Homo sapiens: one gene and its partners. The protein of the gene in region 4 purifies or fractionates together with the protein of the main gene of each other region. This does not show direct contact. Each region holds a gene or a part of one and is shown on either strand. Other genes may lie near its edges. The genes, in order: PEX3, HIGD1C, TVP23C, EDEM2, SLC16A10, HACD1 and SLC25A16.

Region 1 (4,722 bases), on a different chromosome or scaffold from region 4:
GATGGGTGGGACAAGTATGTGGAAGTTCTCTTTGCTTCTATTTTTATGTGTGTGAAATAGGAAGCAAGCTCACCTATTTCTCATTTCTTTCATTGGCCTAAATGAATTCAATTCAATAATAAGAATAAAAACTAACATTTTTGAGTGCTTATGCAGCAAGCACTGTTCTATACTGCTTTATCTATCTTAACTCACTTAAACCTTACAGTAACCCTAGGAGGTAGGTACTATGATGATCTTTTCTTCAGTTTCCATTTCTTCAACTTTCATCCCCTTAATCATTTTTCTTCTTGGAACCTTACCATATTACCTTTAAAAGAATAAAGTTCAGCCCAAATTACCGTGCAACCCAGCAATTCCACTCCTAGGTATCTACCAAAAAGAATGAAAACATCTCTAGACAAAAACTTGTTCAGATTTTTCACAACAGCATTATTCACAATAGCCAAAAAGTGGAAACAGTCCAGATTTCTATTAACTAACAAAAGGATAAAATCTGATGTATTCATATAATGGAGCCCTATGTAGCAAAAAAGGGGAGCAAACCACTGATACATGCTACAGCATAGAAGAACCTTCAAAACATGCTAAGTGAAAGAAGCCAGACACAAAAGACCACATATGTATGACTGTTTCTATGAAATGTCCAGAAAACTATATAGACCAAAAGTAGATTAATGGTTACCTGGGGCTAAGACTGAGATGAGAATTGGCTGGAAATGGGCCTAGTGGGTGATGAAAATGTTCTAAAATTGGATTGTAGCGATAGTTGCACAACTATGCAAATTTACTCAAAATCATTGACTTGTGCATTTAAAATGGGTGAATTTTATGCCCTCTAAGTCCTACTTCAATAAAGCCGTTAAAATGCTTTTAAAATAGAGATGACTAAGGAGAAAAGGTAGGTAGATAGAAAGATACACACATACACATGCACACTGTAGTCAAGAAATTGGAACATAACTAGGTATTTTCTAGCTTTCTTGGCATCTTTATATATTATTCTTTATATTAAAGAGTTTTGTGAGGAACTAAGAGAGTATAATTAAGATCAAAAAACCCCGGTCTCATGTTTGAGCTCCCCAATTTACTAATCACAGGCCTTTCGTCAAGCTTCTTCATCCCTCAAGTATCATTTCCTCATCTGTACACAATAATATTTTCTGTCTCACTGAAATATCATGCTAGAGGATGTAAAGCCAACTAATCTATGACTATAAGGAAATTTAAGAGTTTCCTCAAAATTAGTAGTACTAGTACTGATATTTTTTAAAAAATTCATTGTACAAAGTGCTGACTAGTATAAAAAATCTGAAGTGGATGAATATTCTCATTATGTTGTGCTAAATAAGCTCATTTTTAAATACTTTTTAAAGATTGATTTCTTGATATATTTTACAGTATTAGATTATGACTAGAAATGTTGGTGGCTTTCAAAGGTAACCACGTTATTACTGAATTTGTTTTCTCTTCCATTCAGAGTCTAAAAAGTAACTTATACTTCTTACTTTATATAGCCCAGATTTTAGTACAGTTTTGAATACCTGTTTAAACCGAGGTTTTAGTAGACTTCTAGACAATATGGCTGAGTTCTTTCGACCTACTGAACAGGACCTGCAACATGGTAACTCTATGAATAGGTAAGATGACATATAAAAATGTTATACTAATGAATGCTCTAAAAAAATGGTGCTTTGCTTGTCTTTTTGTTCCAGATAACAACAACAAACCTATTAAATTTGAGTGCCTCATTTTTTAACAAATTAAACTCTGTTAAACCAACAACTTCTTCACTAGCAGAAGCTCCTTCTTGGTTTCAGTATTAAAACTTGGAGTCTTCCAGAAACTTTGCCACTATATTGAAGTACTTTAGTTGTAATTACCTTTCTATAAGTTGAATTCCAATTATTGTTTTTTTTTAACTCTTTAGAATACAAAACTCACAATATGTTTTAATTTTAATGCATTCTCTAATGTTATTCCATTACTGCAGGCCATTTTGGTCTGCATATTTCAATATTTTGTTCCTTATAATACCCGGGCATTGTTGGTATAGATTCTCATTTGATGAATTAGCTCCTTATAGTTCTACAAATGCTTAAATGTATTCATTCCAGTCCTTATTACAGAATTAGGAACATGTATTAGTGCAATTGTTAGTGATTTTAATCATAACTATTACTAAATCATGGACTTATGTATGCCATAAGGTATCTTACGGTTTTTTATATCTTTGTTATCCCAACACAAATATCTTTGGTCTCATATTAGAATTTATACTCTTTAAGGATTTCTATTTTGCAGTTTTTTATGTCAAACTCGGAAAATAATGGGTACTAAATTAATGTTGACTGACTGTAAACTCATTCATTAAAATTTGAGACACATCCTTTGAAGTAGCTTTAAAATTTTTTTTTTAATTGGGGACACAGTAATTGATAGGCAATATGTATGTGCAATATCCAATTTAATTCTTAAATACATAGGGCCAGAAGTTACTTACCAGATTCTCTGAGACCCTTCTTTATTGTAGAGAAAAGATTAATTTGACATTGACATTAAGCATTTGGAATGCTTACAGCCATAAAGTATATTCTCTGAAGTAATTTAAATATCAACATAAAATCTTTAAAAAAATTTTAAGTTATACAAAAATAAATTTCAGCTCAAGACCAATCCTATATACTGTATAAATCAAGGTGCTCCAATTAGTAAAATTTCACCATAATCTGTATATAGCAAGATATTCGTTATTTTGCAAGTAGTGATACATAATTGTAATGGTTATTTTAACATAAATACTTGATTTTGTACACTGAAGAATTGTAAAAATTATACTACAGCCACAACAGCCATGATAGTGTTTCTTTTCTGAACTATAGTAATCATTATCTGTACTTTCATGTACAACCTACATGTGCTACCTTGAATTGGAGTTTTATTCCTCAGTTACATTTTAAGCCTCCTCTCAAAAGTCAAAAACTATCTTGTGCCCTTTCATGTCTCTTTACTCATACAAGGCACTCAGTAGATATTTTCTATATAAGTTTTTCTGTTTCATCTCAATAACCAACTTCATGCTCCATGATTGAACCCTAGAAACATTTCCATCAAGCCTATTGTCATCATTGTTTAATGTGTTGTGAAAGTCTAGCCATCATAGTAAGTCAAGAAAAAACAAATGGCTAAGGCCTGTAATCCCAGCACCTTGGGAGGCTGAGGTGGGTGGATTGCACGAGCCCAGGAGTTCAAGACCAGCCTGGGAAACATAGGGAGAGACCCTATCTCTACAACAAATACAAAAATTAGCTGGGCATGCGGCACATGCCTGTAGTCCCAGCTAATTGGAAGGCTGAGGTGAGAAAATCACCTGAGCCCGGGAAGTCAAGGCTGCAATGAGCTGTGATTGTGCTACTGCACTTCATCCTGGGCGAGGGAGTGAGACCCCCCTGCCCCCCCAAAAAAAGAAGTAAGGTTTTTAACTATTGGCAAAGACACAAAGTATATTATTTACGTGTATTATAATTAATAAGCCAGACCTCTGAAGAGAATCAACTGAAAAATGAGGTAAACTAATAAAGGCTTTAATTTATATATATATATATATATATAAAATATATATGCAACATATATGTATTAATGTATTATATGTATTACATATGCATGTAATATAATGTATAATGGATATTTAAAAGTCAAAAGTGCAAAATGAAATCCAGAAGTATATTACAATAATAATAGCAGCTAATACTTTTTCCATGTGCTAGTTTGATGATAGGTATTTTTCAGAATGTCTCTCATTGAATTCTTAAAATAATCCTAGGAAATACGTACTAGTATTCTTCATTTTCCAGGTGAGGAGACTAAGACACAGAAAAATTAAATAACTTCAGGTCAAGTGGTAAAGCCAGTTGTTCAATAATGTCTATCTGAGATAGAAATTTTTCTCCAAATTTTTAATTATTCTCCAACACTATGATTAATTAAGGTTTAAGAATGTAAGGAGGGTTAAAACTAGAAAAGCTATTTTGGTAATCCATAACATTAATAAGCTAATAAGATAAAAAACATTATCTTCAGTGTTGCTGAAAAGACATTCAATAAAACAACATTTATTATGGATAAAACCTCTTACTAGAAATAAAAAATACATTTTTATATAATAAAATAATATTTGAGTCAGGTATGATAGCTCACTTCTGTAATCCTGATGCTTTTGGAGGCCAAGGCAGGAAGATTGCTTGAGGCAGGAATTCAAGACCAGCCTGGGGAATATAGCAAGACTCCTGTCTCTACAAAAATTTTTAAAACCACCAAGAGGATTGCTTGAGCCCCAGAGTTCAAGGCCACAGTGAGCTATGATCATGCCACTGTACTCCAGTCTGAGTGACAGAATAAGACCCTGTCTCTTAAAAAAATATATAAAAAAAGAGTATTTGAAATCAAAAGCAAATATACTTAATAGTAAAACTGGAATGATTTCCATTAAGTTCAAAAACAGTATAAAGATGGTCACTATTGACAGATTATTCAGCATCATTCTATTATTCTATCTAATGGAGTAAGGCTAGGAGAAGACCAATTTTGAGATTCAATTAAGGAAAGCTGTTGATTTTTTTCTATACTTATATCTTGAAAATAGGTAACTTTTACTGTTGGATAGCGAAAAAAGAAAGAAAATAGACAATTTACTGAGTGTTCTTACCATTTTAATAAACTGTT
Region 2 (4,722 bases), on a different chromosome or scaffold from region 4:
ACTGGCATCTCTTGGGTGGAGACCAGGGATGCTGTTAGGCATCTTGCAATGCATGGGACAATCCTCCACAACAAAGAAGAATCCAGCCCAAAATGTCAGTAGTGCTGAGGTTCAGAAACTGCCACAGAGGTAGGTATCCAAAGGATTAGGGAGATTGGTATGTTAGAGTAAATTTATCCTGCTTACCCACTCCCTAAACTAAGGTTGTGAGAAAGACATTTGTCAGGGTAGCCCTGACAAGAGTCCTGTGGTGACTGTTCTCTGTATGCCAGAAATGACAGTGCAAACTGCTGGGCTCCCTAAATTCAATGGGGATGATGGGATCCTGAGGCTGTGGGGGTCAAGTGGTAGCATTTGATTGACAAAGACAAGGAAAGCATGATTGTTGTGATGGGCAGCAAAGCCTAAGTGGTCATCAGAATAGTCTAAGTAAGCCACAGAGATCTTTGGCATTGGCTAACTGATTATGGTATCCCTAGAACTGAAACTTATGGGCAGAAGCAGAAAAGCTCTAGGTTTGGTGAACAAAAGTCTAACTTGAATCACCACAATAAAGAGCCAGGGCTCCTTGACCAATTCCTAGAATTGAGTCATTTTCACAGGCCCAGAAATCCCTTGAATGAAGAGGGAGCCAGATCCCCTTAAGGAAAGACCATGTTCGACAGACAAAAATAGATGTAAGTCTTCCTTCTAGCCTTTCCCAAAGGGGACCTGTGCTCATTTACCAGGGTACCTGTTCACCAAGGAAGGGAAAAGAATCACATTTATGGGGGATTTTTGAATCCTGGTTCTAAATTGACACTAATCCATACTTTGGTAGAATGAGTGTGGCCTACCAGTCAAAGTAGGGGTTTGTGGAGGTCAGGTGGTTAATGGAGTTTTGCTGTGGGTCTGTTTCATAGTCAAGCCTGGTGGGTCACTGAACCCACTCTCTGTTATTCCTCAGTTCTGGAATGTGTAATTGGAATAGACATACTCATCAACTGTCAGAATTCTTACACTGGTCCCCTGACCTGCAAAGTAAGGGCTATTATAGTAGGAAATACCAAGTGGAAGGAAAAATAGTAAACCAGTGGCTGGGCACGGTGGCTGACAACTGTAATCCCAGCACTTTGGGAGGCTGAGGTGGGAGGATTGCTTGAGCCCACCAGGTGAAGATCAGCCTGGGCAATGTAGCAAGACTTCACCTCTACAAAAAAAAAAAAAAAATTAAAAATTAGCCAGGCATGGTGGTGCACACGTGTAGTCCCAGCTACTCAAGAGGCTGAGGTGGGTGGATTGCTTGAACCCAGGAGTTTGGGGCTGTAGCGAGCCATGATCATACCACTACACTCCAACTTGGGTGACAGAGCAAGACCCTGTCTCAAAAAACAAAAACAAAAAAACCCACAAACATAAAACAAAAGCATTACCCTACTCCTAGAGGGATTGTAGAGATTAGTGCCATCATCAAGGACTTCAAAGATGCCAGAGTGGCTAGATGCAATGGGTCGTGCCTGTAATCCCAACACTTTGGGAGGCCAAGGCAGGAGGATTGCTTGAGGTCAGGAGTTTGAGCTTGGGCAACATAGTGAGACTCTGCCTCTACAAAAAGTCTTTGAAAAAAGATACCAGAGTGGTGATTCCTAAAACATCCCCATTTAGTTTGCCTATTTGGCAGAAGACAGATGGATCTTGGAGAATGATACTATTCCTATAAACTTAATCAGGTGGTCACTCTGCTATCCAGATGTGGTTTTGCTGCTGGAGCAAATCAACATAACATTTGCTTTTTGGTATGCAGCTGTTAATCTGGTTGAATGCTTTTTTCTGTATATCTTTTACTAAAGATAATCAGAAGCATTTGCTTTCACCTGGCAGGGCCCACAGTATGCTTTCACTGCCTAATATCAGGGCTGTGTGAACTCTCCAGCCGTATGTCATAATCTAGTCTGCAGGGACCTTGATCATCTCTTCATTACACAGGACATCCCTTTAGTTCATTATATTAATTTGTTCTGAACATCAAGGGGAAATTGGAATGCATTATATCTTTTAGGGCACTTCTTGGTACTCCCATGTCCTGTGATTAAAGACAATGGAAAACTAAATCCAACACAGGCAGGATGCCTAATAATCCAGGTTAGGCATGAAGGAATGAAGGTTTGGGTCACCCCACCAGTCAAATAACCATGAGTAGCCAAGGTACTTGCTGAAAGCAAAGGGGATATGAAATGTGTAGTGGATGAATATAGATATAATACTAGCAATAACCATCTGACCAGCTGCAGAAACAGACTGTGATATTTAGGAGTGTTTCTTCCTTATTTTGATATGAATGCATTTATGTATAGATTAGCCCAATTTTTTTCTATTCCCCACGTCCATTTACCTATCATCTAACATAAGAAGTGTTAATAGGATTCAACCTTATATCTCAGGATTTAAGTCATAGGATATCAAAGGGGAATGTGATTCAGCTCAAAGAGGAATCATCATCATCCAAAGACGTATGAAGGGATTCTGTATCCTCTTTTGGGAGATAACTAGCATGCTTTTGGATATACAAGGGGTGGCTGATTTTGACACTGTCTTTATTTGGAAGTTAAGAGTAATTAATAGAGGTATATATGGATGTCAAGTTGACAAGGGCTGGACAGTGGTAGGCTTATATTATGTCAGTTGAAGTAGCCTGTAACTGCATTTTCCAGAATTCCTTTCCTTTTATTACCAGGGTTAGTGCAAAAGAGACATCCTGTATGAGATTTAGAAGGTGGAAATGATGCAGCAGTCGAATTCTTCTTATGTCTGGAAGACACTGTTGCGGTACAGTTTTGCTTCTCTGCTGGCTCACTTTATTGGCAGGGTTCAGCAATCATGAGCACAGCCACCATGGCTCCTGCTGAATTTTCTCCTTCACCTTCTCTGACCCCTTTGCCAGCTCCATGTTTAGCCCCAGGATGAAAGGCATTGGCATTTTCTATATTTCACCTCCGTCAGTGAATGTGGAGGCTTGGAGATGGCTGAAAACCCACAAGGGTTCCAGTCTGTCCTGTGTATTGTTCTAGCTCATCTTTGCAGGTTCTGGATTTTCCTTGCTTCTACTTTCCTTTCTTTTCTTTTCTTTTTTTTTTTTTTTTTTTTTTTTGAGATGGAGTCTTGCCCTTTCACCCAGGCTGGAGTGCAGTGGCGTGGTTTTGGTTCACTGCAGCCTCCGCTTCCCAGGTTCGAGCAATTCTCCTACTTCAGCCTCCTGAGTAGCTGGGATTACAGGCATGCACCACTACTCCCAGCCAATTTTTGTATTTTAAGTAGAGATGGGGTTTCACCATGTTGACCAGGCTTGTCTCAAACTCCTGACCTCAAGTGATACCCCTGCCTCGGCCTCCCAAAGTGCTGGGATTACAGGTGCAAACCACCATGCCTGGCCTACTTTCCTTTCTTTTCTAATTCCTTTCCCGGCTCACTTCAGGCCCCAGCTCCAGATTTCATAAGCAAGAGCCTCATAATTATATAAGTTCAAATACCTGTAATAAATCCCTCATTAAACATTACTACTAGTAGTGTTGCTTTTCTCCTCAAACACTGATTCGCCTACCAAGCTATGTAGAGTTCCACTTACATGCCATGCTTCTGTGCCTTTGTTTTTTCCTCTGCCTAGAATCCTGAGGTCCTTCTCTGCTTAGTTAATTCCTCCTTATTCTTGGTTCAGTACATGGTTTACATCCTTAAAGAAGCCTCCTCTGGCCTCCCAGCCCTAGTTAAATACCACTCCCTTGTGTTTGTGCTTCCATAGCAAAAAAATTTTTTTTTCTTTTTTTGAGATGGAGTCTTGCTCTGATGCCCAGGCTAAAGTGCAGTGGCATGATTTCGACTCACTGCAACCTCTGCCTCCCAGGTTCAAGCGATTCTCTTGCCTCAGCCTCCCAAGTAGCTGTGACTACAGGCGCATGCCACACCTGGCTAATTTTTGTATTTTTAGTAGAGATAGGGTTTCACCATGTTGGCCAGGCTGGTCTTGAACTCCTGACCCTAAGTGATCCTCCTGCCTTGGCCTCCCAAAGTGCTGGGATTACAGGCATGAGCCACCGTGCCTGGCTTTTTTTTAGATGGAGTTTCACTCTTATTGCCCAGGCTGGAGTGCAAAGGCATGATCTCGGCTCACTGCAACCTCCACCTCCCAGATTCAAGCGATTCTCCTGCCTCAGCCTCCCCCAAGTAGCTGGGATTACAGGCATGTGCCACCACACCCAGCTATTTTGTGTGTGTGTGTGTGTGTGTGTGTAATTTTTTTAGTAGAGATGGGGTTTTGCCATGTTGGCCAGGCTGGTATCGAACTCCTTACCTCAGTTGATCTGCCCGCCTCGGCATCCCAAAGTGGTGGGATCACAGGTGCAAGCCACTGCGCCCAGCCAGCCTGTGCTATTTCTGTCACGGCATCTATAACTTTATATTGTCTTCTTTCTTTCTTGGTCTGTCTTCCTAAGGAGACTAAACTGTTTAAGGGTAGGGACTGAGTCATATTTCTAAACAGTGTCTGGTACATAGCAGGCATTCAATCAATGTTTGCTGAATGATGAAAATGAGGACTGTAACTTTGTAGTAAGGCTTCCTGTATTTGGAGCACATTACAGCTCACAGTAATAAGATTATTACCACGTAACTTTCCTTGCAAGCCCCATGCCCATCATTCTGTAATTTCCATCCTACGCAGGATGACTCCACTCTGCACGTCATGAAGGG
Region 3 (4,722 bases), on a different chromosome or scaffold from region 4:
GCAGTGAGCCGAGATCGCGCCACTGCACTCTAGCCTGGGCAACAGAGCAAGACTCCATCTCAAAAAAAAAAAACAATAATGGCAACTATTAGTAAAATTTAAAACCAGTCGTGTATCTTCTGCAACATTGGAGAAGATGGAGCAAGTAAAACAGTTCATAGAGCAAAAGAAGGAAAACAAAGCAACTGTCAAGGAAGCTTAAATCAGAGAGTACATGTATAAAGTGATGTAAGTAATAGCAAATTCATTATAATAGGAAATGTAATTTGATTAAACTACCCATTTAAAGACAAGAATACTAAGATTGGTCAGAAATCAAAGTCCAAACAAAAGATCTAACCAAATTAATGACATTAGAAAAAACAAAAGAAGGCAAAGATAACATCAGGCAAAAATAAAAGAAGGCAAAGATCAACTCAAACAAAAAGAAACTTGGCATTGTATTATTATCAGATGAGATATGGATCAGAGTAAGAAAGCACTAAGAGGAACAAAAAAAGGTGATTTTATGAATCACAGTGAAGATCATTCACAGAGTAAAATTATATCAAACTATGTATAGTAAAAAAATTGGAAATATTAGAAAATAGAAAAGCATTATGATGAGTTTAACAAACTACTATCTTAAACAAACCAAAGTGCCAAAAAATAAATAAGTTCTGAAGGATCTGAATGAAATAATTGGCAACATCAATTTGATAGCAGTATTTGGGACTTTGTATGACAGAGAGAATACTTTCTTGTTAAATGCCTGTGGAACATTTACAAAAATTGACTAAATATCACTGTGAAGAAAATCAAAATAAAATTGCCCAAAGCACCTACATTTTCTACTCCAAAGAAACAGAACTAGAAATTAATAGAAAGTAGTTGTTGAAATTGGAATTCTTTTAAAAAAGCGAACTACTACATATCTTGGGTTTAAAAGGAAGCAAAAACTGTAAATATAAGTTATTTATACCTTAATGGTGATCATTTACAGTTAAACTTTCTGAATATGTCAAAAACTGAATTCAGAGGGAAAATAATAGACTAAAGCCTTTTATTTTAGACAAGAAAGAGGGAAAATAATGGACTACTTGAGTCCAGAAATTTCAAAAACAAGCAATAAGTGTGAGAAATCAGGAAAATAAACTAATAAAGATAAAAGCAGGAAATAAAGAGTTAGAAAATGGAAACAGAAGAGTTTGAAAGTATTCTGAGAGCATTCTTTGAAAATACCTATAGAAGAGACCTCTGGTTTAGGTCTCCCTTGCCAGCTCTTTTTTTTTTTTACTTAGCATCTCTCCCATAGGAATTTTGGTCTCATAAGACTCTTCCTTTTCTTCTCCTGTATTCCCTTCCTAAGGAGTGCTGTCTGTGCTTCTGGTTTGAATTGCTGATCTGTAAGCTGTGTTGCCTCCCAGATCTGTATCTCCATTCAGGTTTGTCCTCACAACTTAAGGCCTCTCCATGTGTCTTCTTGACGTTTTTATGTGGCTGTCTTGAAGGCATCTCAAATCTTTTTTTTTTTTTTGAGACAAAATCTTGCTTTGTCACGCAAGCTGGAATGCAGTGGTGTGATCTTGGCTCACTGCAACCTCTGCCTCCCGGGGTTCAAGTGATTCTCCTGCCTCACCCTCCTAGATAGCTGAGACTACAGGCATGCACCACCATCCCTAGCGAATTTTTGTATTTTTAGTAGAGGCAGGGTTTCACTATGTTAGCCAGGCTGGTCTTGAACCCAAGTGAGCCACCATGCCTGGCCAGGCATCTTATATCTTAACATGTGTAAAATACTACTTGTCATCTTCCACTCCCCAAAAGCTCTTCTTCTTTGAGTGTTCCCTTTCGTGGGGCCTGGAATCACTATTTTTTTACTTGAGCAAACCGTAAATGTATCAGTTGCCTCCTTCCTACTCCATATCCAATTAATGACCAAGTCCCATAAATCCATAGATTGTACTTTCTTCATTAGGGCATCAGTGCCTGCTGCTCTATCTGGAATGCTCTTCTTCCTCCCACATCACCTTCATACAGGGATTCCTAATCTTTTTATGCCATGGGCCCCTTTCATAAACTCATGAATAAGTTTTCACATATATAAAATACATAAGATTTCAAAGGAAGTCACTTATATTGAAATATAATTTAAAAATATTAAAAAAGTAAATTTCTGATTGAGTTATATGTGTAGTAGTTCCCCCATTATCTGAGGTTTCGCTTTCTGCGGTTTCAGTACTGCTATATGCTACGCTAAACAGTAAGATACTGTGTGAGGAGAGAGAACTACATTCACATAACTTTTATTAGATTATGTTGTTATAATTGTTCTATTTTTATTTCTTATTCTCTTACTGTGCATTATTTATAAATTAAGCATTATCATAGGTATGTACTTATAGGAAAAAATATAGCATATATAAGGTTTGGTATTAACCACAATTTGAGGCATCTGCTGGGGGTCTTGGAATGTATCCCCTGCAGATAAGGGAGGACTACTATACTTTATGAATTTATTAATGGTAAGATCTAGTGGCAGGTCTAATAACTACTTTCAAAGCAGTGGTGAGCATAAACAATATGTTAAGATAACTGCAGCAAGTATAGTACAAAATGAAAAATGTCTGTGGTTTCTATTGTGTCAGGGTGTTTTTAATTTTACCTATGTTCATAGTTTGTTGTCTACATTCATAATTTAATGATATGCTAACTACTTTCAAAGCAGTGGTGAGCATAAATAGTATTTTGAGGCCGTGCGTGGTGGCTTACACCTGTAATCCCAGCACTTTGGGAGGCCAAGGCGGGTGAATCACTGAGGTTGGGAGTTCGAGACCAACCTGACCGACATGGAGAAACCCCATCTCTACTAAAAATACAAAATTAGCTGGGCATGATGGCGCATGCCTGTAATCCCTGCTACTTGGGAGGCTGAGGCAGGAGAATCGTTTGAACCCGGGAGGCAGAGGTTGTGGTGAGCTGAGATCGCCCCGTTGCATGCCAGCCTGGGCAACAAGAGCGAAACTCTGTCTCAAAAACAAAAAACAAAACCAAACAAAAAACAAAACTACAATATTTTGAGGTAACTGCAGCAAATATAGTACAAAATAAAAAAATGCCTGTGATTTCTATTGTGTCAGGGTGTTTTTAATTTTACCTACATTCATAGTTTGTTGTCTACATTCATAATTTAAAGATATGCTAAATTTTAGCCAGAGGTTAATGAAAATGAAGGTAACATTTTTTTTTACCCATCGAGGTTCACAGAACCACTGAATCTATTAGTGGACACCATTAATTAAACATCCATGGTACTGTTGATTCTTATTTATCTTTTATATTTCATTCCAAATGTTGACTCCTCAGAGAGTCATTTTCTGATACCCAGACTAGATCAAATTTCCCTGTTATACTCTTCAAGCATCCCACACTTTTCCCTTGCAGGACTTAACTCAGTTGGTAATGGTACATTTGTGCATTGGTTGTCTGCCTCTCTTCACCTCTTTCCCTGAGGAAGGAGTTGGTATCTGTTAGTCACTGTTGTATTACCAGCACATAGTAGATGCTCAGTAAATATTTGTTGAGTAAATAAAGATTAGGAAAGCTATCAAACTAATTTGTTACCTTAGTAAGTAGGAAAAGAGCTTGGTACACTTGAGAGACTGACTGAAGGCCAGTGTCTATAATCATTTTCAGGGATATGTAGTTGTAAAATATATGTAGCTATAGTCAGGATGTAAAGTAGGTCACAGTAACCAAATAGCAAGGGGTTTAGGGAAAATTAGGGAACTGGAGAAAGGGCAAATTGTTCATGAGGGAAAAGAGAAGGTGTAATGTTTATGGGTGGACTTGTTGCTTGCTCTGTCACCTCTACCCCTATTAGTCCTGCCATTACCATTTTACTTAATCGTTTAGCCAGGCCTGATACATAGTAGTCTTTGCTAACTGGATATTATGGAGGTAAAGCTGAAGGTTTTTGTTTGTGAAATGTTACACTAAGATAGGAGCTTGTGACAGATCTTTAAATAATGCTTTTAAAATGTGCCTGTTTATATTAATCTTCACCAGAATGTCACAGGTAGACTAATGGTTGGCCTACGTTGGTGGAATCACATTGATGAAGATGGAAAGAGCCATTGGGTGTTTGAATCTAGAAAGGTAAAGTGCCTTTTTTGTTTTAAATAATGTTATCAGCTAAATTATTTGTAGACTATATTTAAATACTGGAAGATGAAGTATTCAGAATTAAAAACACTATACCAAATCACTTGGCATGTCAGCACTAAAGGAGATGGCCTTCTAGAATTTAATGCATTTTTCTGTCTAGTTCAGACCAGAAACAAGCAATATACGAACAGAATCCTTTGAGGGAAGACACTGGGTCTGAGTTCATACAGTGTGCTAAGCTGCCTGTCAGGGATTGCTGATAAAAGATCTCTGTGTTGCCTTTGTTAGTGTCTCCATAAATCCCTCTATGCTCAGCAGATAACTGCTTTTAACATCTTGTTCTGTCTTTGCTCCTGTGGTCGTCTTTCATTTCTGGGCAGGAAAAAGGAGGAGGAGTGCAGCTGGATAGAATATCTGATTGGAGCACTCTATTCCTAAGCTTCTGCCTTCAGGAGCCCTGGGGATCCTGGTCTGTTTTGGGTTAGCCTGCTACACTATAGTGAATATTCACTTTCCTTGTGGAAATAAGTTTTGGAAGCAGAGGACCAAATTCTTGGCGACAGTACACCAAGGGTA
Region 4 (4,722 bases):
TTGTAGCCTAGGAGCAATAGGCTACACCATATAGCCTAGGTGTGTAGTTGGCTATACCATCTAGGTTTGCTTAAGTACACCCTATGATGTTTGCACAATGATGAAATCACCTAACGATGCAATTCTCAGACTATATCCCTGTCATTAAGCAATGCGTGACTACTGTTTTCCTATACATACACATCTATGAGAATTCTTAATTCATTAAATTTTTAAAAATTTTTATTTTTGAGACAGGGTCTTACTCTGTCACCCAGGCTGAAATGCAGTGGTATGATCACGGTTCACTGCACCCTTGACCTCCCAGGGTCAAGCAATCCTTCACCTTGGCCTCCCAAGTAGTGGGGACTACAGGCACGCACCATCATGCCCAGCAAATTTTTTTTTATTTTTTGTAGAGACGAGGTCTCACCATGTTGCCCAGGCTGATCTTGAACTTCTGGGGTCAAGCAATTCTCTCGCCTCAGCTTCCCAAAGCACTGGGATTAAAGGCATGAGCCACTGTGCCTAGCCGAAAAAGTTTAATTTATAAATTAGGCATGGGAAGAGATTAACAACAATAACTAATAATAAAGCAGAACAAGTATAACAATATATGTTATAGAAGTTATGTGAATTTGTCTTTTTGGTAAGAGACAGGAAAAAAAGAAATTATGTAAATTTAGTGCCTCAAAATATCTTTGTTTTTTTAGAGAGGGGGTCTTACTATATTGCCCAGGCTGGTCTCAAACTCCTGGCCTCAAACAATCCTCACTTCCAAAAAACTGGGACTACAGGCGTGAGCCACTGCACCCAGCCTCAAAATATCGTATCTGACTGTACTCACCTATTTTCAGACTGCAGTTGACCATGGATAACTGAAACCATGGAAATCAAAACTGTGGATAACGGGGGACTACTGTAGCTATAATAATAATAGTAATTAGGTGCTCAACAATTCCTCAAGATTGCTAGTGTCTAAGGGCCTGGCGGGTAAGATGTATTTATTCAACAGGTATTAATCTATTACCTACCACATGTAAAGCACTGTGGGGAACATAAGATGAGTAAGGCATGGATTCTGCATTCAATTTGTAGAGCTGTAACTGTTGATGAGAGCTAACTGCAAGAAAGATGCTGAAGGTCCCAAATTCTGTAGAAGGATCAAGCTACTTCCTGGGCAAGGCGACATTTAAGTTAGGCTTTGAAGGGTGAAAAGAATTTGGACATAGGAAGACAGGAAAAAAGACATTCTAGGCAAAGAAGATGCCATGTGCAATGGCCAGGAGATAAGAAATCCAGGGCTACATACACAGAATGCAGCACGCTTCAGTTGGCTTTTGCAAGAAGGCATCAAGTGCTGTAGTGGGCATGAAGTGGGCAGTGTAAGTCCATAGTGACTCTGAATTCAGAACTGATTCTGCAGGCACTCAGGCCAGGCGTGGTGGCTCACACCTGTGATCCCAACACTTTGGGAGGCCAAGGCGGGCAGATCACCTGAGGTCCGGAGTTTGAGACCAGCCTGGCCAACATGGTGAAACCCCGTTTCTACTAAAAATACAAAAATTAGCTGGATGTGATGGTGTGCGCCTGTAGTCCACACCATCACATGCCCAGCTACTCAGGAGGCTGAGGCATGAGAATCACTTGAACCTGGGAGGCAGAGGTTGCAGTGAGCCTAGATTGTGCCACTGCACTCCAGCCTGGGAGATGGAGCAAGACTCTGTCTCAAAAAAAAGTTTTTAAACAAATCACACATCAGCAAGAAAAATGAGGGGAAAAGCTCCCTTACTCTGCCATTTTTACCTAGGAACATGGCCATGAGCTTCTTATCCTGAAGCAGGATGGCTCCTTTCACCAAGTACTCAAAGTAGGAGTCCACGCCAGCCCCGATGCCTGCGTCCTGGGCCACCCACTTGCCAGTGAGCACATCAATGTGGTTGCCGACCTGAGAGAGAGAAAGACACACGGTCCCAACGGGAAGGCCGATGGCCAAAGAAGGATCTACTCACCCCCAACCCTGACTGCCCAGGGAGATGCAGGGCAGGTGCCCCAGTGCTTCTTGGGAAACATGCAGACCCTGAGAGGGAAGGGCAATGCTGGATCATGGCCAGCCTTCCTGTACATCTGCATAGTAGAGATGCATCTCATGCACATTTATGAGGACTTAATTATACACATTGAGCAAAAAATGAAAAAGAAAAATGATTTGGAGTGTTTATGTCCTGCCTAGAGTGAGTGTGAGATGGGAGATGAGAATTTGCTGTTGCCGCAATCTGTCTGATTTCTCAGCACCCAGCATGTGATTCCACTATCTGAAGACACAGACGTGCTTTACGTATTTCCATAAATTAACTCAATAAGAACATCCACCAAGAAGCTGACAGAGTGGTTCTAAGGAGAGAAACCGAATAGCTGGAGACAGGGGCAAAAGGGGACTTCACCAATGTCACTGAGTACCCTTTTTTGTATCCTTTGACTTTTTTTTTTTTAATTGTTCAGTCTCTGTAGAGACTGTGAAAAATTGGCAATGCCGGCCAGGCGCGGTGGCTCATGCCTATAATCCCAGCACGTTGGGAGGCTGAGGGGGGCAAAATCACTGGAGGTCAGAAGTCCGAGACCAACTTGGCCAACATGGTAAAACCCTGTCTCTAATAAAAACACAAAAATTAGCCAGGCATGGTGGTGTGTGCCTATAATCCCAGCTACTCAGGAGGCAGAGGCATGAGAATCACTTGAACCCAAGAGGGGGAGGTTGCAGTGAGCCGAGATCGTGCCACTGCACTCCAGCCTGGGCGACAGGGGGAGACTCTGTCTCAAAAAAATAAACAAAGATACGTATTTTTCTATTTTATTGTATTTATTTTATTTTTTGTATTTTTAGTAGAGACATGGTTTCTCCCTGTTGGTCAGGCTGGTCTCGAACTCCCGACCTCAGGTGATACGCCTGCCTTGGCCTCCCAAAGTGCTGGGATTACAGGCGTGAGCCACTGCGCCCAGCCAAATATATGTATTTTTCATATGGCTTAGACCCTCATGGAAGCTGGTAACTTCATCTGGTACTCAAAGAAATAGCTAACTGTTCCGCGTTGGTTTGTGTCCCCCCAGGAGCACAACCTCATTCTGCCTGAAAGTAGTTGATTTGGAAGGTAAGTCCTTGTAAACACCAGTAGAGGAGGGGGAAGTGAGGCAGGGCAAGGGAGGCGGCATTTAAGGGGTATGCCATCAGGCAGGTTTCCACCATGGGAACTGGAGTTCAATCTTGCTGGGGAGCTTAGGAATTCAGTGTAGAGCTCCAGCTTCGGAGTGATCCCACCCAAGGGGCAGGGAACTGGAATGTTTATCCACCAACTCCCATCAGTATCAGTTACCGGCTTGAGAGCTACTCATGGGTAGCATTAAATCCTGGTACCCTCAGCCAAAGGCAAGCAGAGTGGCTCCAGGCACCAGAGGAGACCCACAGGCAAAGAGGCGCAGGTGATGGCAGTTGGAAGACTGGCCAGTGTGCATGGAAATGTTAAGAGTTGAGAGGATATGGGCATGGCACCAACAGAGTCTACTACGGTCCCACTGCTGGAGCAAAACCTGCCTGAGATGGACTAAGGGATTTACTACAGGTCTCCAGCGGGGCACCTTTTTTTTTTTTTTGAGATGGAGTTTCGCTCTTGTTGCCCAGGCTGGAATGCAATGGCGCGATCTCGGCTCATCCCAACCTCCACCTCCCAGGTTCAGGCAATTCTCCTGCCTCAGCCTCCCAAGTAGCTGGGATTACAGGCATGCACCACCACGCCCGGCTAATTTTGTATTTTTTAGTAGAGATGGGGTTTCTCCATGTTGGTCAGGCTGGTCTCGAACTCCCAATCTCAGGTGATCCGCCCGCCTCAGTCTCCCAAAGTGCTGGAATTACAGGCGTGAGCCACCGCACCCAGCCTTAGGGGGGCACCTTCTTAAGGGATTTTCGGGGAGTCCTCACACAAGCTTTACTTTTCAAGCTGGATTAGCACCAGACTGCATAAAATGTGCCTAGACCTAAATGCAGTCTTCCTAAGTCAGAGTGACTCAGCAAAGTTGGTATTAATATATTAACGTTACTGCTGAAGTAACTGAGGACCAGAGAGGTTGAGTGACTTGCTCAGGGTCACACAGTTTCGATGTAGCAAGGCCAGGGCTTGAATCCAGTTCTGACTAAATCCAGTGTTATGTCCTGGATGGCTTTGGCTCAATTACTGTTAATCTTATTGATTATCCCATTTAGAAGCTGAAACTGACCTTAGAGATCATCTGGTCCAAAGTGTGTTCAATTTCCATGGGTTAATAGTACTGGAAGATAAAGGGAAGCTCTGGTGTTAAATAAGTTTGGGAAATGTTAAATTAAACAAAGTTGAATAGATTTCTTTACTAGAGGATTTTTATTCTGCTCATGTGCATTCTGACTCTCCAAAAAAGGGGGGGATATTATATCTAATATTCCCCTAACTTAATTGGCCAAGACTCATTTTTTCATGCAACTGCCACTCAGTATCTCTCAGAACCGGTGTCCTAAGAAACACAGCAAATACAGATAGACGCTAAAAATGAAGGCCGGACGAGCTGATGATCTGAAGCCGTCAAGTGAGTCAGGGGCATGAAACATACGACCCTCTTCCTAGAAATCAGAGAATCTCAACTGGTCAAAGCTGAATGCAGCCCCTGCTGCCTGCCAGAAACGTGCTTTCCCACTCTCCTCCCCACTCCAAGCCAAAC
Region 5 (4,722 bases), on a different chromosome or scaffold from region 4:
GAGCCACCCCGCCCAGCTGCAATTTAATCTTTAGCAAAAAATAGGTACTAGCTGAACTGTAGACCAATGCACCTTTCCGTAGGTGCAATGGACTTTTATCCATTAATTTAATCATTGACCTTTCATTTAGACTTAACTATCTAAAGGATACCTTTAATTGAATTTAAAACTCCTTAGTGAGTGATTCTTAAGTGGAGGCACTGGAGGAGGAAAGCGGCACAGCTCCCCTCACTCACTAAGAGGCATAGATCAGAAGTTCTAGAGGGGTACATTTACTAATTTTTTTAAAGCACACATTCAATATTATAATTCTGTATTTAAAGAACAAGAAAATAATTCTAATTATATCCACAACATAACTAAAAGTAAAGCTTGGCCGGGCATGGTGGCTCATGCCTGTAATCCCAGCACTTTGGGAGACTGAGGCGGGTGGGTCACCTGAGATTAGGAGTTCGAGACCAGCCTGACCAACATGGCGAAACCCTACCTCTACTAAAAATACAAAAAAATTAGCCAGGCATGGTGGTGCGTGCCTGTAGTCCCAGCTGCTCTGGAGGCTGGGACACGAAAATCGCTTGAACCCAGGCATCGGAGGTTGCAGTGAGCCGAGATCACGCCACTGCACTCCAGCCTGGGCGACAGAGCAAGACTCTGTCTCCAAAAAAAAATACAAATAAAAATTTAAAAAATAAAAGTAAAGCTTGACAAAATTTTGGCTGATGGATAAATACAGAGTATGACATTGTCTTCTGCCACTCACAAGGAAAGGCAAACTACACTTGGATGTGTGCAACAAAATTCTGAAGTACCATGAGACTTTTATGTTTATCAAGAGGGGACAAAGGGAGTTACAAACACTGTTTTGGGGCCAGGCACAGTGGCTCAAACCTGTAATCCCAACACTCTGGGAGCCTGAGGTTGGAGGATCACTTGAGCTCAGGCATTTGAAACCAGCTTGGGCAATATAGAGAGACCCTCCCCCACAAAAAAATTTTTAAAAATTAGCCAGGTGTGGTGGTATGTGCCTGTAATCCCAGCTGTTCAGGAGGTTGGGGCAGGAGGATCCCTTGAGCCCAAGAGGTTGAGGTTATGGTGAGCCATCACATCACTGACTGCACTCCAGTCTGAGCAAGAGAGCAAGACCCTGTCTCTTAACAAAAAAAAGAAAAGAAAGAAAGAAAGAAAAAAGATTCACTGCTTTGGTCCACAAAGGAAACATTGCTTTGGTCCACATTCAGTATTTCTAATCTGTATTTCATACTTATGCCCATAATTAAAAATTAGTGAAATGAAAAAAGACTTCTTACTTGAAAATAAGGCAAGCCATTTCTTCATCGACTTTTTTTTAGTTCCTATATGCAAGGTGAGGAATTACTTTTGCTGTTAAAGAAGGCACTTTAACAAAGAGGTATGATCATACACATTTGGCATGTACATTTGAAAGCACTGCTTTCCTCCATTCCTCCAGCCACTGATAGGCTATCTGTCTTATGTGGTGGGTCTGCGCAGTTCCCAGGTGTGCTGGAGTTTCCTGTTCTGAATCTCTGCCAATAAAAACATCCACAGTCCCTGCGTGGGTGGCACCAGGCCAAGGCAGGTGCTCAGAACTGTGGTGAGCTGACTGTTCATGTTATGTTTAGGGTTTAGCTTGTTTTTGTTAAGGTTTGCTTGTTTAATTTGAATATAAGACCAGATTTCTAGCTAGGCGGTGATAACTCTGGAATTCTTTTCCAAAAATGACATCACAGCATTTCTGATGACTTGAGTAGGAGACACTATTGAGAGAATATTCTAAAGAACATGCAAGTAAATATGTAGTAAATAGTTTCAGGCTGGGGACAGGAGTAGGATTCTACTTTCAGGACAACTTTGACATAAGTACAACTTTTTTCCAGCCAAAAAGCTGCTCTTAAGTTCAACTTAATAAAAGTAAATACTGATATCAATCCTAATACTGTGCAAGTTGCAACTTTCTTATCTATCCATGGAGGTAATGACATACCACAAGGCTACTCTAAAAAATAATGTACATGAAAGCCTTTTCTTTATGGTAATGGAATGTATTACTCCATTTTCATAGTGTTATGAAGAAATATCTGAGGCTGGGTAATTTATAAAGAAAAAGAGGTTTAATGGACTCACAGTTCCACATGGCTAGGGAGGCCTCACAATCATGGTGGAAGGTGAAAGAGGAGCAAAGGCATGTCTTACATGGCAACAGGCAACAGAAAGTGTGCAGGGGAACTGCCCTTTATAAACCATCAGATCTCATGAGACTTATTAACTATCACAAGAACAGCACAGGAAAACCTGCCCCCATGATTCAATTACCTCCCACCAGGTAATTACCTCCCTCCCATGACAAGTGTGGATTATGGGAGCTACAATTCAAGATGAGATTTGGGTGGGAACACAGCCAAACCATATCAGAGAATATAAAAATTACCACTTTAACAAATATGGATCATCTTTAAAATGGCTTTCACGGAATGCTTTATTAGAATAGGTTGAAATCAGGTTCTCTGTCTACCACTTTAAACATAATTTGTAACTTATTTGAATTCGTTCTCAAAACTCCAAAATGTAGCTACCCCCAATATTCCAAGTGCATCAAATACATAACAATTGCATAAAATCACTGTTTGTGTCCCAGGATTGTGACATAAGAATAAAATGGCCAACCATTTCATCAGAATCTCACAAGGACCAACCATCGCACTGAAGACAGGAGTGGCACACACAAAGGTACAGAGGCAAAAAGCAGCAAGACAAATTTGGGCCAGTGTAACACCTACAGGTTGGCTAGAACACAAAGACCAGTAAGGGAGAGAAGCAGGGGCAAGGCTAGAGGGCCAGGCAAGGGCCAGAGCTTGCAGGCCTTCGGAGTAGGGAGTTTGACATTTTCCTAAAAGTAATGAGTGTCACTGGGCATTTAAACAGAAAAATCATATGGTCCAATCTTTTAGAAAAATCACTCAGATGTACAACTGAGGACAAGCAATCCTGTTAAGGGGTTATGACTAATTGTTGCCAATAGTAATGAAGGTGGCCAGGCACAGTAGGTCCCGCCTGTAGTCCCAACACTTTGGGAAGTTGAGGCAGGAGGGTCGCTTGAGGCCAGGAGTTCAAGACAAGGCTGAGCAAAATAGCAAGATGCCATCTCCACATAAAAATTTTTTTTAATTAGCCGGCCATGGTGGCATGTGCCTGGTGTTGCAGCTACTCAAAAAGCTGAGATAGGAGGATTGCTTGAGCTTAGAAGTTTGAGGCTGCAGTGAGCTATGATCATGCCACTGCACTCCAGCCTGGGGAACACAGTGAGGCCCTATCCCAAAAAATAAAATAAAAAGTAAATGAAGGCATGAATTAAGACACAGTAGTGAAAGAAAAGTGGGACTGATTTATGAGGCATTAAGAAGGTAAACACAAAAGAACTCTGATTTAACAAAACAGGTAAGGAAGGAAGAGAAATAAGAAGCTAAGATACATTCCAGGTTTCTGACTTAAACAACCAGAGGTATCATGCACAGAGAATTAAGAAGGAGGAATATGGATTCAGAAGAATGCCGACAAATGGGCTGTCATTTTTGGTAGTAAGGGAAGGTTGTATGGTGTAGCTGAAAAATGAGTTCATGTTAGTTTAGTATGATGTACCTGTGTACCCAAATGGAACTGTCCAGAAATAGTAAATAAGTCTTGAACACAGTGATGAGATTTGGAAATAACAGCCCCAAGACAGTGGATGGAAGAAAGCAGGAAAAGTGAAGCAAGTATATGGCCAGGGGCTGAGCCTCAAGGAACTGCAACAAAAAGATGTAGCAAATCACATCAAAAGCAGAGTACAATTTATTCTAAAAGACACCTCAAAATCGCTCCTGAAAAAATGTGTTATGCTTTTCATTTTGGCTAATTGGGTTCTTTCAGCAGTTAATTTTATTGAAATTATTAATTTTTAATTCCATGAAAAAACACCACAGGAATCTCACATTGTTGTATTTAATTAGAATTCACTATATATGCTATTCAGTCTCGCACTTAATCCAGAAACATTCTGGAAATGAAGTATGAAACGCCCATACCATACTCACTATTATTCCAAAATCCTAGAACCATTTTTATAATCTTCTCACTTATTTTAGCAGGTAGTTTAGATTGGTTTATTGCCATAAGTGAGTTCTCTTAGCTTTTCTACCTCTCTTCCAGTGTAAATAACAATCAGGTATTTTTCTTATAGTGAAAGATGTATAGGACCATGAACCAGATTATTTGTTCACTGTAACTAGCTCAACAAAGGACTGTTACTAAAAATTTTTCTAAGATACAGAAATGGCTAGTTATGCAGGCCGCTTTTCCTACTAAACAAAACAAAATCTCTTTAGCGTAAAGGCAAAACATAGCAGTTAATTTCTGAACTATAGCCAAAATTTCCTATAATCTAGGTGTCACATACAACAGTACAATGTGGATATCAGTATAACTGTAAATGTGAAAACTTGGTGTGGGGGGAACAATTTCTGAGGAAGCACTAACTGACCTGAAGTTTCAGAGGGGCTAGCAAGATACATGGAGAGGTGCTGCAAGATTCATTCATCCCTAAATGCTACTGAAAACCCTACTTTGTGACTGTAACCATCTAAAAAGAAATCTGTCTCCATACAGGGAGTGTAGAGTTGCGTTAAAGATTATAGCCAAAGAACCTCCCTTTCAGGACCTTTTTGATAA
Region 6 (4,722 bases), on a different chromosome or scaffold from region 4:
TATGTTCGTACATAGACATGTACATGCATGCTTATAGCTTGATTTGTAATAGCAAAAACTGAAGAGAGCCCAAATGTCCATCAACAAATGGATGGATGAACAATTTGTGGTAGGTCCATTTGCGGATCTGTCCTCAGCAACAAAATAGATTCTACGCAGCAATAAAAGATATGGCTCTTACTTAACATTCTGGGAAATGAACCTTGGGTTTCTTGTTCTATTAAATCATACTAAGTATACTGTGAAAATATCTTACTTTCTCTTTCTGCAAGAAGTGCAATTTTAGGCCAGGCGCAGTGGCTCACACCTGTAATCCCAGGATTTTGGGAGGCCAAGGTGGGTGGATTGCTTGGGCCCAGGAGTTCAAGACCAGCCTGGGCAACATGGCAAGACCTTGTTTCTACAAAAAATTTAAAAATTAGCCAGGTGTGGTGGCACGTGACTGTAGTCCCAGCTACTCGGGAGGCTGAGGTGGGAGGATCACTTGAGCCTGGGAGGCTGAGCAGTGAGCTGAGCTGGTGCTACTGCACTCCAGAGCCAGACTCTGTCTCAAAAAAAAAAAAAAGTACAATTTTAAATAAACCACTAGGAATAAAAATGAACATTTGTAAACATCCACTGTGCATCAGGCATCCTGCTAAGAACTTCATATCCATTATCTCTTTATTCCTTTATAATCTAGCTAAGTAGTTGTGCTGTTCCAACTTTACAGATGAGAAAACTAAGAGTCAGAGAGGTTAAGTAGCTTATCTGAGGTTACCCAGCTACAAAGGAATGAGACACAACCTTTAAACAACACCTTTGTGTATTGTGTACAGACTAAAATCCAAACATGTTAGCAAAGCATCTGAGGCCCAGTGCAATGCCCCAAGCTACCTGTCCGCCTTCATTTCCCACTCTACACTTCAGGTCCTCTTCTTTTTTTTTTTTTTTTTTTTTGAGACAGTCTCGCTCTGTTGCCCAGGCTGGAGTGCAGTGGCATGGTCTCGGATCACTGCAACCTCTGCCTCCCGGGTTCAAGAGATTCTCCTGCCTCAGTCTCCCGAGTAGCTGGGACTACAGGTGCACGCCACCACACCCAGCTAATTTTTTGTATTTTTAGTAGAGACAGGGTTTCACTGTGTTAGCCAGGATGGTCTCGATCTCCTGACCTCGTGATCCGCCTGCTTCAGCCTCAAGTGCTGGGATTACAGGCATGAGCCACCGCGCCCGGCCCAAGCCCTCTTCTTGATGCCTCAACAGATGTCTTGCAATTTCAGATCTCTGTCCTCTAACTCATGCTGTTTCCCCACTTATGCCTACTTAAGTCCTTCACCGCTCAGTTTAAATGCTGTGATCTCTCACAGAAAACTTTCTCTAATTCTCCCTACCTGTCTGTCCTCTGACACATCTGCTTAGCACTTATCTCATTATTTTATTGCAATTGTTGTTTATATATTAATGCCCCAGGTTACCCTGCTTCAAGGACAGGGCCTAAAGTATTTGAAGGACAATGCATTTATATATACGGGCACAAAAGTATTTGTCAGAAAGAAAGAGAGAGGGAGGGAGAGAAATGCTCACTTCCCTATTATGAGCAAGTGCCATAAAAATCCTTACATCTGGCCAGGTGTGGTGGCTCACGCCTATAATCCCAGCACTTTGGGAGGCCGAGGCAGGCAGATCACGAGGTTAGGAGATCGAGACCATCCTGGCTAACACGGTGAAACCCCGTCTCTACTAAAAATACAAAAAAATTAGCCAGGCGTGGTGGGGGGTGCCTGTAGTCCCAGCTACTCGGGAGGCTGAGGCAGGAGAATGGCATGAACCCGGGAGGCGGAGCTTGCAGTGAGCTGAGATCGCACCACTGCACTCCAGCCTGGGTGACAGAGCGAGACTCTGTCTTGAAAAAAAAAAAAATCCTTACATCTGCCAGGCATGGTAGCACTCACCTGTAATCCCAGCTACTCATGAGGCTAATGCAGGAAGTCACTTGAGCCCAGGAGTTTGACGCCAGCCTAGGCAACAAAGCTAAACTCCATCTCAAAAAAAAAAAAAAAAAAAAAAAAACCCTAAAAAATCCTTACATCCTTTAAAGGTGTAATTCTTCTTCCAGGAATTTATTACACTAAGCCACGAATTGAACAGAAACAAATAAAAGCAAAATGTCGTTAGGCGCATGATTTAATCCATTATTGTATAATTAATTCTATACACTCAAATGTAACTGTCAAAAAGTATAATTATGAAAAACAGATGAAAACCTGACAGACTATTAAGTGAAAATGGAAAAATATACAATACAGCAGATATTATAACAGCAATGCTGTAATACATTCACTCATTCATTCATTCAAATATTTATTGAGTACTTCTTGGAGTTTACACTCTAATGGAGATGACAGACAATAAGCATTGCGAATAAGTAAAATATATTGTACAATCATATGAAAGAAAGTGGGATGGAGAAAAATAAACAGGCAAGGGAGATAAGGAGTATGTGTTTCACTATTCAAATTAAGATGACCAGGTAAGGCCTCCTTGAGAATGAAGTTTTGAGTAAAAACTTGGAAGAGGGGGCCGGGCGCGGTGGCTCATGCCTGTAATCCCAGCACTTTGGGAGGGCGAGGCGGGCGGATCACGATGTCAGGAGATCAAGACCAACCTGGCCAACACGGTGAAATCCCGTATCTACTAAAAATCCAAAAAAAATTAGCCGGGCGTGGTGGCGGGCGCCAGTAGTCCCAGCTACTCAGGAGACTGAGGCAGGAGAATGGCGAGAATCCGGGAGGCGGAACTTGCAGTGAGCCGAGATCTCCCCACTGCACTCCAGCTGGGTGATAGAGCAAGACTCCGTCTCAAAAAAAAAAAAACAAAAACAAAAACAAAAAAACTTGGAAGAGGTCAAATATTCATATGAAAGATAAAAAGAAAATGAAAGTGTGTGATAGGCTGATAAAATAACAAGCTGTATTTTACATTTATGTAAAATTTTATAATATTTCTTAAATACTATTCCGTTGCTTTGCAATTTGGGGTGTGTGTGTGTGTGTGTGTGTGTGTGTGTGTGTGTGTGTGTGTGTGTGTTTTGTTTTTGAGATGGGGTCTCGCTTTGCTGCCCAGGCTGGTCTTAAACTACTGGACTCAAGCAATCCTCCTGCCTCAGTCTCCTGAGTAGCTGGGATTACAGGTGCATACCACTGTTCCCCACTTGTTTTGAAAATTATTACAAAAAAATTAATAAACACGCCAAAGTTCTGTTAACAGAGAAATAAGTTAAATGAACAAAAAGAGCCTCAACTAGTCTTCTGCTGTCCACCCTATAAAACGTGTAAGTTCTTGTCCCGATTTCAACACTACAACTTCTTCAACCTTATTTACCACTATTCCCCAACAGCACCCTCCAGTTCAATCAAGAGAATACATCAGGCTTGCATATCATGCCTATTTCCAGAATTTATATCACCTGAAATGTCTACTCTCTATGTATGCAAATCTTATTCCTTCTTCAAATCTCACCGCCTCTAGAAAGCATCTGAAGAGTCAGTTACAGAGATTATTCCATTTCAATATCCCTTATTTTTGTAAATATGACAAGGAAACTTCTCAGTAGAGGCAGAAGGAGACAAGTTTAGAACAAGCCCTGATTTGCCGGGGAAGGGTCAGAGGGACAGAATGGAGAAAGCATTTAATTCTGCACCAGGTAAGGCAGGAGACCCGGAAAACTTCAAAGAGGTAGATTTGATTAGAAGTCATGGGAATAACAGGAGAACATTATACAAAAGTGAAAAACCTGAGCACAGAAGCAGAGCGCTGTGAAAATACATGGTGCTTTGAGGGACGAGTGAGTCAGAGATATCAAATGCAAGTTGACTGGAAAGGGGAATCGGGAGCAGATTGCAAAAAGCCTTGAATGGCAGATAGCCTGAATCCCTTAGATCAGGGTGGAGGTGGCAGGGAGTCACTGAAGTCTTTAAACTGGAGCTATGCATTGATGTTCATTTTTGAAATATCAGTTGGCTTTCAAGACAGAGAGTCAACTGAAAAGAGAAAGGACAGACACCCAGTTAACACAAGGCAGATATTTCAAAATGTTCACTGGCTGGGCACGGTGGCTCACACCTGTAATCCCAGCACTTTGGGAAGCCATTGTGGGAGGATCACTTGAGAACATCCTGGGCAATATAGCAAAAACCTGTCTTTACAGAAATTATTATTATTATTGTTTTATTTTTTTGTGTGAGACAGAGTGCAGACTGGAGTGCAGTGGCACGATCTCTCAGCCTCCTGGGTTCAAGCGATTATCGTGCCTCAGCCTTCCAAGCAGCTGAGATTACAGGCCTGTGCCACCATGCCCGGCTAATTTTTGTATTTTTAATAGAGACGGGGTTTTGCCATGTTGGCTAGGCTGGTCTCAGGCGATCCACCCGCCTCAGCCTCCCAAAGTGCTGGGATTACAGACGTGAGCCACCGTGCTCGGCCTACTCTACAAAAAAATTTTCAAATTAGCTGAGGATGGTGGTGTGCGCCTGTAGTCCCAGCTACTCAGGAGGCTGAGGCAGGAGGATTGCTTTGAGCTTCGGGGTTGGGGCTGTAGTAAGCACCACTGCACTCCAGCCTGGAAAACAGAGCAAGGGCTTGGCTTAACAAAAGAAAAAAAAAGGAAATAACAAGGAAACGTTTATTTTATTTTATTTTATTTTATTTTTTGAGACGGAGTCTCACTCTGTCGCCCATGCTGGA
Region 7 (3,500 bases), on a different chromosome or scaffold from region 4:
CTCCTTTTATAAAAAGGTGAATAACAGGCCAGGCACAGTAGCTCGCACCTGTAATCCCAGCACTTTCGGAGGCTGAGGTAGAAAAATTACTTGAGACTAGGAGTTTGAGACCAGCCTGGGAAACACAGTGAGACCTCATCTCTACAAAAAATTTTTTAAAATCGGCTGGGCGCAGTGCTTCATGCCTGCAATCCCAGCACTTTGGCAGCTCGGGGCGGGCAGATCTCCTGAGGTCAGGAGCTCGACACCAGCCTGGCCAACATGGTGAAACCCCGTCTCTATCAAATATACAAAAAAATTAGCAAGGCATGGTGGCAGGCGCCTGTAGTCCCAGCTATTTGGGAGGTTAAGGCAGGAGAATCCCTTGAACCCAGGAGGCCGAGGTTGCAGTGAGCCGAGATCACACCATTGCACTCTAGCCTGGGCGACAAAGCGAGACTCCATCTCAAAGAAAAAAAAAAATTAGCAAGGCATGGTGGTGTGCCTCAGTACTCAGAGACTAAGGCTGGAGGATGACGTGAGCCAACAGTTGGAGGTCACGGAGAGCTATAATTGTGCGGCTTCGCTCCAGCCTAGATAACACAGCAACACCTGGTCTTTAAAAAACAACAAGTCCGGGCACGGTGGCTCACGCCTGTAATCCCAGCAATTTGGGAGGCCGAGGCAGGCAGATCACTTGAGGTCAGGAGTTTGAAACCAGCCTGGCCAATATGGTGAAACCCCATTTCTACTAAAAATAAAAAAATTAGCCGGGCATGGTGGCGGCTGCCTGTAATCCCAACTACTGGGGAGGCCGAGGAAGAAGAATCTCTTGAACCCAAAAGGTGGAGGTTGCAGTGAGCTGAGATCACACCATTGCACTCCAGCCTGGGTTACAGAGACTATGTCTTAAAAAAAGAAAAAAAAAGAAAACACAAATAAAATTTTAATTTTAAAAATCCATATTCTGAGATATCCAAAAATAAATTGTGGCTGGGAGCCGTGGCTCATGCCTGTAATCGCAGCACTTTGGGAGGCCGAGGCGGGCAGATCACGAGGTCAGGAATTCAAGACCAGCCTGGCCAACATGGTAAAATCCCATCTCTACTAAAAACACAAAAATTAGCTGGGCATGGTGGTGCGTGCATGTAATCCCAGCTGCTTGGGAGGCTGAGGCAGAAGAATTGCATGAACCCAGGAGGCAGAGGTAATAGTGAGCCGAGATCGCACCACTGCACTCCAGCCCGAGCAACAGAGCAGGTCTCGGTCTCAAAAAAACAAATAAAATAAATAAATAAATAAATAAATTAAATAAATAAATAAATAAAATGTATTTTTTACTCAGATATTATATCCACTATGTTTCCATATCAAAGCTCTCTTATCCGAACTAATGAAAATAATAGTTGGCCAGGTATGGTGACTCATACCTGTAATCCCAGCGCTTTGGGAGGCCGAGGTGGGCGGATCACCTGAGGTCGGGAGTTTGAGACCAGCCCGACCAACATGGAGAAACCCTGTCTCTACTAAAAATACAAAATTAGCTGGGTGTGATGACGTGTGCCTGTAATCCCAGCTACTTGGGAGGCTGAGGCAGGAGAATCACTTGAACTTGGGAGGCAGAGGTTGTGGTGAGCCGAGATCACACCATTGCACTCTAGCCTGGGCAACAAGAATGAAACTCCGTCTCAAAAAACAAAAAAAGGCTGGGCGCAGTGGCTCATGCCTGTAATCCCAGCACTTTGGGAGGCCGAGGTGGGTGGATCACGAGGTCAGGAGTTCAAGACCAGCCTGGCCAAGATGGTGAAACCTTGTCTCTACTAAAAATACAAAAATTAGCCAGGTGTGGTAGCGGACACCTGTAATCCCAGCTACTCGGGAGGCTGAGGCAGAGAATTGCCTGAACCCGGGAGGCAGAGGTCTCAGTGAGCTGAGATTGTGCCACTGCACTCCAGCCTGGGTGACAGAGTGAGACTCCATCTCAAAAAAAAAAAAAAAGTAAATCATAATCATAGCTATCCAAAATTATGGGTAAACTAAAAATAATATGCATTTGGATACATTTGGTTTCAGAATATTTTATATTATCTTCTCAGTTGTGTATGAATTAACTGTATAATGAATTATTTAGGCCAGGTGCAGTGGCTCTCGCCTGTATTCCCAGCACTTTGGGAGGCCGAGGTGGGCAGATCATCTGAGGTCAGGAGTTCGAGACCAGCCTAGCCAACATGGTGAAACCCCATCTCTTCTAAAAATACAAAAATTAGCCAGGTGTGGTGGCACATGCTTATAATCCCAGATACTTGGAAAGCTGGGGCAGGAGAATCGCTTGAACCCGGGAGGCATAGGTGGCAGTGAGCCGAGATCATGTCACTGCACTCCAGCCTGGGCGACAAGAACGAAACTCCGTCTCAAAAAAAAAGAGAGAAATTGTTTAGAATGTATTCAATAAGTACTTTTATATAATAGTATCTTTTTTTTTTTTTTTCCAGGGCTGGAGTGCAATGGTGCGATCTCGGCTCACTACAACCTTCACCTCCCAGGTTCAAGCGATTCTCCTGCCCCAGCCTCCCGAGTAGGTGGGATTACAGGAACCCACCACCTCGCCCAGCTAATTTTTTCTTTTTTTAGTCTTTAGTAGAGAGAGGGTTTCACCATGTTGGCCAGACTGTTCTTGAACTCCTGATCTCGTCATCCACCCGCCTCTACCTCCCAAAGTACTGGGATTACAGGCATGAGCCACCGCACCCAGCCTATTTAATAGTATCTTAACTTGCTTTCACACTACGATAGTCCCCCCTTATCTGCAATTTCACTTTCTGCAGTTTTAGTTACCACCAGTCATCCATGTTCAAAAAATATTAGATAGACAATCTGTAAATAAACAATTGACCCGGGCACAATGGCTCATGCCTATAATCCCAGCATTTTGGGAGGCCTAGGTGGGAGGATCACTTGAGGTCAGGATTTCAAGACCAGCCTGGCCAACTTGGTGAAACCCCGTCTCTACTAAAAATACAAAAATTAGGCCAGGCGCAGTGGCCCACACCTGTAATCCCAGCACTTTGGAAGTCCGAGGCAGGCAGATCACCTGAGGTCAGAAGTTCGAAACCAGCCTGACCAACATGGAGAAACACTATCTCTACTAAAAATACAAAAATTAGCTAGGCCTGGTGGCACATGCCTGTAATCCCAGCTACACGGGAGGCTGAGGCAGGAGAATTGCTTGAATCCAGGAGGCAGAGGTTGCAGTGATTCACAATTGCACCATTACACTCCAGCCTGGGCAACAAGAGCAAAACTCTGTCTCAAAAAAAAAAAAAAAAAAATACAAAAATTAGCCAGGCGAAGGGCCAGGCATGGTGCCTCACATCTGTAATCCCAGCATTTTGGGACGTTGAGGCGGGCAGATCGCAAGGTCAGGAGATCGAGACCATCCTGGCTAACATGGTGAAACCCCGTCTCCACTAAAACTACAAAAAATTAGCCGGCATGGTGGCACGTGCCTGCAGTCCCAGCTA

Evidence for each region.
Region 1: the proteins of EDEM2 (region 4) and PEX3 purify together in Homo sapiens (co-immunoprecipitation; one large-scale study listed by IntAct). This does not show direct contact.
Region 2: the proteins of EDEM2 (region 4) and HIGD1C purify together in Homo sapiens (co-immunoprecipitation; one large-scale study listed by IntAct). This does not show direct contact.
Region 3: the proteins of EDEM2 (region 4) and TVP23C purify together in Homo sapiens (affinity purification with mass spectrometry, with the first as the bait; 2 studies listed by BioGRID). This does not show direct contact.
Region 5: the proteins of EDEM2 (region 4) and SLC16A10 purify together in Homo sapiens (affinity purification with mass spectrometry; 2 studies listed by BioGRID and IntAct, with this or other methods). This does not show direct contact.
Region 6: the proteins of EDEM2 (region 4) and HACD1 purify together in Homo sapiens (affinity purification with mass spectrometry; 2 studies listed by BioGRID and IntAct, with this or other methods). This does not show direct contact.
Region 7: the proteins of EDEM2 (region 4) and SLC25A16 purify together in Homo sapiens (affinity purification with mass spectrometry; 2 studies listed by BioGRID and IntAct, with this or other methods). This does not show direct contact.

The regions. Positions count from the first base shown.
Region 1 is NC_000006.12:143,477,559-143,482,280, forward strand, and holds part of PEX3 (peroxisomal biogenesis factor 3), read left to right. Parts: intron 1-1,517; coding exon 1,518-1,640; intron 1,641-4,722. UniProt on the Homo sapiens protein: Involved in peroxisome biosynthesis and integrity. Assembles membrane vesicles before the matrix proteins are translocated. As a docking factor for PEX19, is necessary for the import of peroxisomal membrane proteins in the peroxisomes.
Region 2 is NC_000012.12:50,961,775-50,966,496, reverse strand, and holds part of HIGD1C (HIG1 domain family member 1C), read right to left. Parts: intron 1-4,722.
Region 3 is NC_000017.11:15,546,474-15,551,195, reverse strand, and holds part of TVP23C (Golgi apparatus membrane protein TVP23 homolog C), read left to right. Parts: intron 1-4,047; coding exon 4,048-4,137; intron 4,138-4,722. Other genes in the region: TVP23C-CDRT4 (uncharacterized protein LOC100533496), read left to right, coding at 4,048-4,137.
Region 4 is NC_000020.11:35,129,857-35,134,578, forward strand, and holds part of EDEM2 (ER degradation-enhancing alpha-mannosidase-like protein 2 isoform 1 precursor), read right to left. Parts: intron 1,928-4,722; coding exon 1,786-1,927; intron 1-1,785. Other genes in the region: MMP24-AS1-EDEM2 (ER degradation-enhancing alpha-mannosidase-like protein 2), read right to left, coding at 1,786-1,927. UniProt on the Homo sapiens protein: Involved in the endoplasmic reticulum-associated degradation (ERAD) pathway that targets misfolded glycoproteins for degradation in an N-glycan-dependent manner.
Region 5 is NC_000006.12:111,093,266-111,097,987, reverse strand, and holds part of SLC16A10 (monocarboxylate transporter 10), read right to left. Parts: intron 1-4,722. UniProt on the Homo sapiens protein: Sodium- and proton-independent thyroid hormones and aromatic acids transporter.
Region 6 is NC_000010.11:17,610,082-17,614,803, forward strand, and holds part of HACD1 (very-long-chain (3R)-3-hydroxyacyl-CoA dehydratase 1), read right to left. Parts: intron 1-4,722.
Region 7 is NC_000010.11:68,517,524-68,521,023, forward strand, and holds part of SLC25A16 (solute carrier family 25 member 16), read right to left. Parts: intron 696-3,500; exon of another isoform or gene 1-695. UniProt on the Homo sapiens protein: May be involved in the transport of coenzyme A in the mitochondrial matrix. Very little is known about the physiological function of this carrier.